Linked DNA regions of Homo sapiens: region 1 is linked to region 2. The links come from fine-mapping of genetic effects on gene expression. Tissue or cell type: thyroid. Region 2 holds a variant in brackets; the other region holds the start of a gene. All regions are shown on one strand. Distances are between the middles of the regions. Region 1 holds the start of SH3GL2 (SH3 domain containing GRB2 like 2, endophilin A1). Region 2 overlaps SH3GL2 (SH3 domain containing GRB2 like 2, endophilin A1).

What was found.
Region 1: SH3GL2 starts here. The variant in region 2 is fine-mapped to the expression of SH3GL2 in thyroid (GTEx, PIP 0.96).

The regions. Positions count from the first base shown.
Region 1 is chr9:17,576,497-17,581,874 of GRCh38, forward strand. It overlaps SH3GL2 (SH3 domain containing GRB2 like 2, endophilin A1), which reads left to right and starts at 2,570. Exons shown (of 9, transcript NM_003026.5): 1 at 2,570-2,791. The coding sequence starts at 2,747. RefSeq lists a silencer at 1,382-1,580.
Region 2 is chr9:17,618,299-17,623,676 of GRCh38, forward strand. All of the region lies in intron 1 of SH3GL2 (SH3 domain containing GRB2 like 2, endophilin A1), which reads left to right. Among named protein-coding and RNA genes, the nearest start is that of SH3GL2, 42 kb to the left of the region's middle. The variant G/T (reference allele first, on the strand shown) is at 2,038.

The DNA of each region.
Region 1 (5,378 bases), 42 kb before region 2:
GTTTTTTGTTCTTGCGATAGTTTACTGAGAATGATGATTTCCAATTTCATCCATGTCCCTACAAAGGACATGAACTCATCATTTTTTATGGCTGCATAGTATTCCATGGTGTATATGTGCCACATTTTCTTAATCCAGTCTATCATTGTTGGACATTTGGGTTGGTTCCAAGTCTTTGCTATTGTGAATAATGCCGCAATAAACATACGTGTGCATGTGTCTTTATAGCAGCATGATTTATAGTCCTTTGGGTATATACCCAGTAATGGGATGGCTGGGTCAAATGGTATTTCTAGTTCTAGATCCCTGAGGAATCGCCACACTGACTTCCACAATGGTTGAACTAGACACTCCTGTTTTTAAAACCATCAGATCTTGTAAGACTCATTCACTACCACGAGAACAGTGTAGGAAAGACCCACCCCCATAATTCAATCACTCCCACTGGGTTCCTCCCACGACACGTGGGAATTGTGAGAGTTACAATTCAAGATGAGATTTGGGTGGGGACACAGCCAAACCATATAAGATGAGGTGCAGAGGATGCCTGGGCGACTAAATCAATGGTTTCCAAAGGATTTAATGTAATGCCCTTAAGTAGTTTTTTTCTCCCAAGGTAGTTTCTTTGAAGTTAAGCAGCATGAGACTTCCAGGTTGGTGGATGAAGAACCAGGGAAAGATAGAAACTGCCTTTTTTATAATGTAGGGCTCAGTTAAGTATTCAAAGTTCCAAGGAGGCAATTCAGGCCCCCATTTCACACCTTTCACTGTTAGAGAGCAGAGCTCCTATCCATCCCAGGCCCTTCCACTTTGTAGATCAATTGCTCTATCTTTTGGCAGCTTCAACAAAGCCCTGTCTTATGAAAATGCTTTATTGTTCAGATCAGGGACCTGGTAGTAAAAATTAACTATAAAATACTTTTTTTTCTATTATGCAAGTAATGGGTAGCCTTTTTAAAAATTGGAAACATAGAGAAAAAAGTTTATTCCTAACAACCGGAGCCTCAGTGGATTAAAATTACTCAGGTTTCTCACTGATGCTACATGCCCATTGAACGTCAGGTGGGGACTCTGCACTGCTTTAGTCTCACTCTGGATACTGGCTGACAGACCACAGCTTTCTAGAATATTGCGGCCGAGGAAAAGAAAGCTTTGCGGCATCTCATACATCTCATATTGCTGCTGCAGAAGTGACAGTCACTTTTCCTCTTAAACCTCTAGTCAAAACTTGTAACCATGCCTCCACTTAACAAGAGGTTTGGAAAGTGCAATTCTGCCATGTAGGGAAAGGTATATGAACAGTGGTAAGGGCTACCACACTGGAGAATAGCTCCTTTCATCTGCCTCCCTTTGCAGCCTGCGTCCCTAGTCCATGCGCTCTACTGCTCCAGTGCCCACCACTGCTTGACTCTGCCTTTGTGTGTGTCAGTTCACATTATCAAGAAGGACCATGACTGGTAGCTCTACGGATGGAGGACCCTTTTGTAGCAGGTGTTCACCCTGTGCCCAAGCCGCAGTGCCTAGAAGAGTGGGGATGGGTCTGTGGCTCCTATCAGGCTGCAGGAGTTGCGGAGACAGAAAAAGTATTTCTAGGACTCCCATTTGGCCTTGCAGTCTCTACACATCCTTGGCAATTTCTCCCATCTTGGCTTCTCCTTCTTATCACTTTGGTCCACATACGGGGACAGCGTCTAAGTTCTTTCTGACCACCTCCTCAGTCCTAGAAAAACCAGACTTGGTTAAGTACCAGAGCACAGAAGGCATTTAGTGCTGCTCTGCTCCCAAGTCATCTATTAGTTTCACTTTAGCCAGCCATACCTCCTTGGTTACATATGAAGCATCTGTATATAACTTAGTATCATGCTTTTTCACATTATATTTTGATTTTTATCGGACCGGAAACCCTAAATCCACAAGCATAACAACAAGATCACATTTGGGCTTTTTCATTTCTGTAACCAGAGGATTGAACGCTAGTTTTGTAGTAAGACTTCAATTCTATTTATCCGTCCAGGCTTAAGGGTTCCTGTTCTTCTTTTTAAGTCATTAAATTGTATCAGACAAGGGGGAAAACGCGTGTGTGACTTTCCCTAAGGTAAGATGGGCTTAAGGGATATTGAAACCAGGGCAGAGAAATGTTTTCTGTGACCCACCAGTCAGGGCAAGGCATAGAAGGAGCAATGACTTATTCATTAGCCCAGATAGAAGGCCAGTCTTTTTCAGGCTGCGGCGCAGAGACGCCAGGCTCAAAGGGCAGGAGGGCCGTCTGCAGGCAGCGCCGCCGCGGCTACCTGGAAGCCCAGCAAGTCACCTGAGTCCTGCGGGTGCCTGGGCTGCCAATCTGCAGCGACCCGTCCGCAGCCCCCGGGGGCAGGAACACCAACCCCGGGACAGGAGGACGTCCTCGGCCCGCTGACTAGGGATCCGCCAGCGGGTGCCGCTGAGCCACATCCCCGCAGTTGGCGCCAGCATCCAGGTACCGCGCGCCACAGCACCTGCCTGGGCGTTCCCGCGCTTGGGGCGGGGCTTCCCGCGTCCCCTTTAAGAGGCCGCATCACCCGCCCTTGACGTCAGAGTGTTTCTCCGCAAGAGCCCGTGTCCCGCTAGGCTCCGCGCCCTCGCGCCCATAGCCCCGGCGGCGGCACGACCAGAGGCGGCCAGGGGAGCGCGCCGCCCCGCTCGGCCCTCCAGTCCCCCTCCGCCTCCTCCCTCCCGCACAGCAGCCGCCAGCGCGGCCTCCTGCACCATGTCGGTGGCCGGCCTCAAGAAGCAGTTCCATAAAGCCACTCAGGTAAGGCGCGCGGCAGGTGCGTCCCGGGGCAGTCCGGGGCGAAGCTGCGAGGGGCGCGCTCGGCGCTGGCCGTCCGGCGGCAGCTTGGGGAGTTCGGCACCGAGCCTCGCCCGCGCCGGCCGCGCCCCGCCTCGCAAGCCAAGGCGGCGGCTCGGGGCATCCCCGGTCTGGGCGTCCACCCTCGGTCCCCCGCCCCCGGCTTGGTGCGCGCTGCCTTCCCGCGGGTCCCCGGCGTCCTGCCTGGTAGCGCTGCTCGCCGCCCCCGCATCATCTCGCGCCCGTGCTGCAGGAAGGGGACCGCGGCTGCACTGCTGCCGCGGCGCGCAGGTGCCTTGGCGGCGCGGTGGGAGATTATGTAAAGTCGCCTCTTCACGGGTGACCTTGCGGAGTCGGTGCACCCGGCTTTCCCGGGATGTGTTGGCATGAGCGGTGGCCGCACTGGGGGTGGCGGGGCGGAGGCCGGCGGTTTGCGCTCCTCTCCCTTACCCTGTTGTCAGAACCCTCCTTCCCCGCCGCCCGCAGGCTCCAGGGGAATGGAAGGCTGGGGTCTTCCTTTAGGGACCCGCATACATTAACTTTTACCTGGAGAACTCGGTCGTGAAACTCCTTTGAGGCCAGGGCATGACAAACAGTCTGCGGGTCTTAAATATTTCCCTAAAACAACCAAATTGTTGAAGACTTAAAATCATCATGTATTTTAAATTGTTTTTAATAAATCTTTGGCATCTTGGATGTGCCCATTTTTCTTTATGGGGTTAATAAGCTGTGACTGTAATAAAACTGATTAATTTAGATTCTAATAATTAAAATCATTGGACTCAAAGAATTTTACATAGGGGCAAGTAAGCGAATACTTACGCTGTGACCTATTTCTTACATAATGTGTGTGATTACTACTTTTTTATCCTTCTGAAATAGGTTCAAATTTATGGGATCTTTAAGGATTTTGATGACTTACCGCGAAATGTTTTTCATGATTTGGTGTTAAATAGTTTTTCATAGGTTAGCCTTAATTAACGAGCTTTCTCATAATTTCTCGGAAGTAGTGAGGTTTTTCCTAGGCTACCACAGTGGCAGCCTTGTTATGAACCACATCCAGAAAAGGTGAGGGTTGTGTTTTACAGAACCTTGGTTAACTTAGGGTGACAGATGCAGCATGTAATTCCCGTCGTGTGTGTGTTTGCACGCATCTGCATCATCTTCATCACACATTCTTGCCTTTATAGAATCAATTATACCTGTCAACTTAGGAAATCAAGAAAAGTAAGACTATTTCTGTAAAAATGTTTCTTAATGTAATTATTTTTGCTTTTCTATTATAATTGGAGTTATCTGTGACCTCTCTGCCAGACATGTTTATGAAAGTAAGTGATTTGTTTGTTGATGTAGTTTGGAAGGCTTCTAATAACTTTATACTGCAAGTTCTTTCAGGTTTACAGAACCAAGCATATGTGCTGCCCAGGAATTCTGTGGCAGGACTTCTTCGATATTACTAACCTTTTTGATTGCTCTACTGGTCACTTCTCTATAGCATATCTCAGCACTGCGTTTACCAACACATCTTTTTTCCACTTGGATTCTAAAGATTTCTTTTGCAAAGCTTAGTGCCCTCAAAGGCAATTAAGAGTCTTGGCTTTGGAGTGGGAAAGGCTAAGGTTTGAATCCTGCCTCTGCTGCTTCTGACCTTGAGAGAGTATTTAACTTCTGAACCTGTCCATGCTGAAGTGATGATAATTTCCGTTGTCTCTTCAGGGTTGAGGTGAAGAGAAACGAGTGTGTAGAACACACGTATAAAGTGTTCAATAAATTATAGTTATTGACATAAAGGATATTTTTATTAGTATAAAATACTATCCCTTATGCTGTGAAGAAGTTACCCAAGCTAGACCTTTTAGTTTTTCCAACTTAAAAAATAGAGCGCTCCATTTCCGCTAAATCTTGAAGTTCTGTGTCGCCCTAAAGTGTAGAAAAAATAATTTAAACTGCGTTAGGAAAGAACTTAAAAGGTTGGAGAAGGTCGGCATGTGATGCGATACGGTTAATGTTTATCACACCGAATCCAAATGCAGAATCACTGCGTCATTGTCTTCCTTTTACTGAAAAGCCTTTTATTTGAAAGGTGAAGCAGCACGTAGTCTCTTATCCATAATTTAGTGTAGCACACTCTTAGAAAGTCTAAGGCACAGGTGACTGTTCTGTGCATATGTATATTTAGGAGAGTATGTAAAGCCCATGTTAATGTTTGCATGTGACAAAAAAATTAGAGAAATAGTCCTGTCCTACTTTTGTAGCCATTTTTTTCCATCAGGTCCGTGAACCTGATGTTATCTACAGAGAAGCTTTAGACCTAGAATTACTTCCTTTTGAGAACTGATGTGCTGGATAATATAGCCTGGGTTTGTTTGTTTGTTTATTTATTTATTCATTTGAGACAAAGTTTGACTCTTGTCGCCCAGGCAGGAGTGCAATGGCGTGATCTCAGCATACTGCAACCTCTGCCTCCTGTGTTCAGGCGATTCTCCTGCCTCAGCCTCCTGAGTAGCTGGGATTATAGGCATGCACTACCACGCTCAGCTAATTTTTGTAT
Region 2 (5,378 bases):
AATGTCAGTAGTACCTCCATTGATATACCCTTCTCTAATGGGATTCTACCAGGGTTGGAGAGTTAGGAAATTGTTACTTTCTTCATACATGGAGAGGAGCATAAGTGAGCCATGTGCCATTCTGGACTGAGGTGCCACCATGGTGCCAGCATTTGATAATAGTAAACTCATGACCCCTTATTCATAGTTTGGAAATTTAAAAAACGCTGGAAAATGTGACGTTTCTTCATAATTCAGTTAGCAGTAAAACCTTGCCTGTGTTGATGTAAAGGTATTTATAGTCTTTATTTACCTGGTTTTGTGTGAATGTTAATGCGCTTGACTGTAGGGTGCTGGCCTAGACCTGGCTTGGGGCTTTATTTAGTAAATATGCTGTATCACTCTTCTAAAGTTTGTAACATTCTATACTTGGAAACACTTTGGTCCCCAAAGGTTTCAGAGAAGAGATTGTGAACTTATATATTGAACTAAATTTTTGCCAAATTTGGCTTATTTTGTGTGTGTGTGTGTGTGTGTGTGGTTTAAGGAGTTGAAAGTTTAATAGAAGAAAGGAGAGAGGAGAGCATCTCCTTGCAAGAGAGAGAGAGAAAGAGAGAAACGTCTGAAAAAGTCCAAAGTTGGCTTATTTTTAAAAATTCAGCGCTTTTAGTAACGTTTATTGATTTTTTTAAATTCCAAAAATGACATAAGATCATTTTGAAAAGTTTAAGTACAAAAAAGTAGTAATATTATCAACCAACTGTATGGTACTTAACTGTGCGCTAGATACAATTCTCAGCACTTTATGTGCAGTAACTAATTTAATCTTACGAATCCCATTATACCTACTTTACAAGTGCAGAAGCCGTGGCATAGTAACTTGCTCAAGATCCCCTAGTTGATGGCAGAGCTGGGCTTTGAACTCTGGCACAGAGAAGGAAGTGATTCATCATCTCCACAGCTGGAGTGGGCTGCTGTGTGTACATGGATGTATTTCCTTATAGCCTTCTTTCAGCCTTCCCTACTCAACTATATTTGAGAATTTCCCCTGTTGTCTTAAATATTTTCAAAAAACCTGATTGTTGAATGGCTGACTACCTATTTAAAAGAATAGGTGAGGTGGGGCATGGTGGCTCACGCCTGTAATCCCAGCACTTTGGGAGGCTGAGCCAGGCAGATTACCTGAGGTCAGGAGTTCAAGACCAGCCTGACCAATATGATGACACCCCGTCTCTACTAAAAATACAAAAATTAGCTGGGCTTGGTGGCATGCACCTGTAATCCCAGCTACTCGGGAGGCTGAGGCAGGAGATTCGTTTGAACCCGGGAGGCAGAGGTTGCAGTGAGCCAAGAGTCACCATTGCGCTCTAGCCTGGGCAACAAGAGTGAAACTCCATCTCAAAAAAAAAATAAAATAAAATAAGTGAGTGAACCATAAATTATTTAAACATTCTTTTGTTGTTGGGCATTTAGGCTCTGTCCATTTTTTCACAATAGAAAATTGACATGGACACATTTATGTATAAATACTTATCCATATCTGATTATTTCTTTAGAGAATGTTTTAATGGGGCTTTTTAATAGACTCTTCATATATACTGTGAAATGTACCAGTTTATTCTCTCATTAGAATTCATTGTCATCAGCCTGGAGTGTTAAATGCTTTTCCCTTTGATTTCTGATTCTGTGATGTAGTATCTTGAAGTTTTCTGAGAAAATCAGACAGATGATTGGAAATTTAGTATGATTTTTTTTAAATTGGTCAGGAAACAAGTAGTTGGAATAACTGATTTTATAAAATTTTATATTTCAAAAAATTCAATTTTAGAGCCATTTTATTTTCAGATTAACCCATGAAGTTAAATCAAGGCTCCATTTCACATTGTTATGAAGAGCTGGTAGAAATAAGGATAGTGCAGCATTAAGAGATACTCTGACCTGAATCTTACTGGTATGTGATCAGTATATGCCTAAAACAACCATTCAGTAAACATTTATGGAGGATCTGCTACGCACCATACACTGCATTTTGCACTGGGTATCCAGTGAGGAACAAGT[G/T]TATAAAAGGAAAAATAGCAAATACTTACACAGTGCTTTTTAGGTGTCAGACACTGTTTTAACAGCTTACGCATGTTACTTAATTTATTACTCCCAACAACCCTATGAGGTAGATACTATTATTGTATCCATTTAACTGATGAGACTGAAGCACAGAGAAGATGAGTAATGGGCTCGCAGACATGCAACTACTAACCAAGGCAAACCACTGACTGTGCTAGTTTGGAAGGGCAGACAGAAGAGGGTTGGTGCAGTACTCTGGGCATGAGAAACTGGTGGCTTTTGCCACCAGCAAATTGGTCAAGCAGTCCAGCAATGGGATTGGAGAGAAATGGAGGCATCAGAAAGATTTTTCAAGATAGAATTTATCAGACATGGTGATTGAATGTGGAGGGAGAGGGAGAAGTCAAGGGTAAAGCCTAGGTATCTTGGTATGAGTGACCTGCTAGATGATGGAGCCCTTCAGTGAGTCCAGGAACAGTAGGAAAGAATGAGGAGCATGTTTTAGATTGGTGATGTCAGAGGGGTCTGAAAGGGGGAGGTAAGCAGAGGGGCATTATCTTCAAAATATTTGGAGTCAGTAGCTTTGAAGCTCACCAAATATACCCTGGTAGTTTAGTTATCAGAAAATGAGTTTTTAAAAAATACTTATAATGTGTAGTTCATGAGAAAGTTTTCCAGCGTTTAAAGATGTTGACAGAGTTTCAGTTGATTGCTGTGGTTTTCGTGTATGAAAAACATGTAAAATTTGTGTCATATTAATGCCCTTTTGAAGACTAATTTCAATGCCTGTAGACAGCTTTCTAATGTAGTTGTATCATGATTTGGGTTATCAATAATCTGTGAATGTATAGATTGTTGCCATTTTCCTTCATTGTAGATAATTTTACAATGAATGTCTTTATGCATAAAACAGTTTTGATATGCAGGATTATTTCTTTGGAGGTATAGCTGAACTACAATTTCCGAATCATACATATCACAAAATTAACTTCTAGAAAGACTGTGCTAATTTATGTCCGCAACTACGTGCAAGACCTGCCTCTTAATCAGCCATTGGGTTGAATTGTCCTGATGATTTTTGTGGCACCTTCATTCAATTCCTGCTTTTTGTAACATATCCCATGATCACAATCATATGATGACTTTGTATCCTGTGTCTTTATTTTATTGGAATCAATGCCTGATTCATACAGAATATTGCCAAGAAGTTTTACAGATATAATCAGATAAGAGAGGAGAGATCAAGATCATGTTCTTTAACTCTGTTTAAAGTATTGATGTCAGGATGATACTTCAAGTTTGAGGTGAAGTTTTTGTGCCAAAGCCTGGCTCATGGCTGTGAGGGCACCTAGGACTCACTAAAAGATGCGTGTTCTTCAGTGTGCACATTACCTGCCTTCATGTGGTAAGTGGTGGAGAGTTAAAGCCATTACATGGATCACTCAGGACAAAAACAAATTTTACTGTAAAATTTCTGGTGATTTGGGAGCAAAACTAGGATAACTCTTTTGCACTTGCAGTATGCCATAAGTGCCGCAGTTTTTGACTTTTTCTACTTTGCCCAATAAAAATGTTGCTCTACAACCCTTAATTTTTATAACTGTTCTGGCCTCAGTTTTCCACAGTGAATGTTCCTAGTTTGTGTAATGTTCTTTAGGTTGCTAATTTCTGCCTCCAGAGCCAGGAGATCTGTCTTCTTTTGATTATTCCCAAAGGTAAATTTTGGGAAAACTAGAATCAGGCTATTTCCCTATTTTTCATTTGGAAATTTCTGCATTCATAAACAGTTGCTTGTAACCTTTTAATGAATATGCATTAGGAGTTGTTTTGAAAATTTATTATTTAGGGATTATTTATTAGCCTGGTTACTTGCCAGGGTGGTACATTAAAAAAAAGTTTGTCCACCCATCTGCTTCATCCCGTAATCCCCCCAAACAGTCATCAACTAGGAGAATCGTAATATGCAAATAAGCCATCTGCAGTGTCTAAATGGGAGGATAGCTTCCAATTTTTAGTCAGAAACCTGCCAGGGGCAGGGGAATAATTTCAGTAGCATTCTTCCAAGGGGGAGGATCTCTTAAGAGGCAGCATGATTAAAAATGCTTCCATAGTAAATAAGGACACTAGAATTGGGTGTCCAGGCCACTTGTGAGCAAAGAACCTCCTATTTCCAGATTCGGCGCCACCTGTGGGATACTCATGTTTCATCATAGGTGTCCACAACTTTATTCTTTTAATACCTCTACAAAGACCAAAAAAAAAGTGATACCAATTAAAAAATGTGGAAGAATATTAATTGGGATTGAACAGTACCTGTGGTTTTCTCATGTGACCCTGGGTTTGTCTTATTCTCTGAGAAAGTGGGCTGGTAGGTAGGTGCTCTTGATGTCCTTAATTTCAAAATGAGGAAGTCAGAGCAGGCACGGTAAGTAAAGAATAATGGATCCTGAGCCTCACCTTTTGGTCACTCCGTTGGCAGGGTATGTGCTTGGGGCATGAAAACCAAGACTCAAAGACTGCCAATCCTCTGCCGCAGTTTTTGAGAGTAAGAACTATGCTTGCTGTAATATGGCAGAATGAAATTATACCTGCTCCTTCCTTGCTTCTTCCTTCCCTTCCTCCCTCCCTTTTCCTTTCGTTTCCTTTCGTTTCCTTTCCTTTCCTTTCCTTTCCTTTCCTTTCCTTTCCTTTCCTTTCCTTTCCTTCCCCTTCCCCTTCCCCTTCCCCTTCCCCTTCCCCTTCCCCTTCCCCTTTCCTATCTTTGCATTCGTTCTGCTTTAGTTCACTGTTTGGAAGGGTGAAATAAAGCCCTGGTTCTGTTCTTTCCCCTTGTCCTTCCATCGGAGTGGGCCCTTTAGTGGTTAAGGGTGAGGGATGAGAAGTTAGTCTCTGGTGTCTAAGGTCCCTACGATACGTCTGAATGTTGCCAGGTGTAGAAGATGTGTCCTGTCCATAGGAGGAGCTTGTGGGAAGCTAGCTGGCGAGGTTCAGAAAGTAGAGTTGTGGGATATGTGGCCTTAGGTGTTGTATACGTATGTAGTTCAAATGGAATTAGATTCTATATAGGGTAGTGTGTAGACTGAGAACAAAATGACCTATCAATCTTAGGGAATGAATTAAGAAGAAGGTTGCCTGTGAAGGACAAGTCAGAGAGAAATCCAGAAGAGATTGATGTTCTGAAAGTTAAGACTGGACAATGTTTCATGAAAAATGTAATCGGAGAATGAAGGTTCAATATGTTTTTTGTTTGCATTTTCTTTTTGCTTGGAAATCATTTCAAATTTACAGAAAAAAATTACAAAGAATACCTGTCCATTTATTTATCTAATTCACCTTTT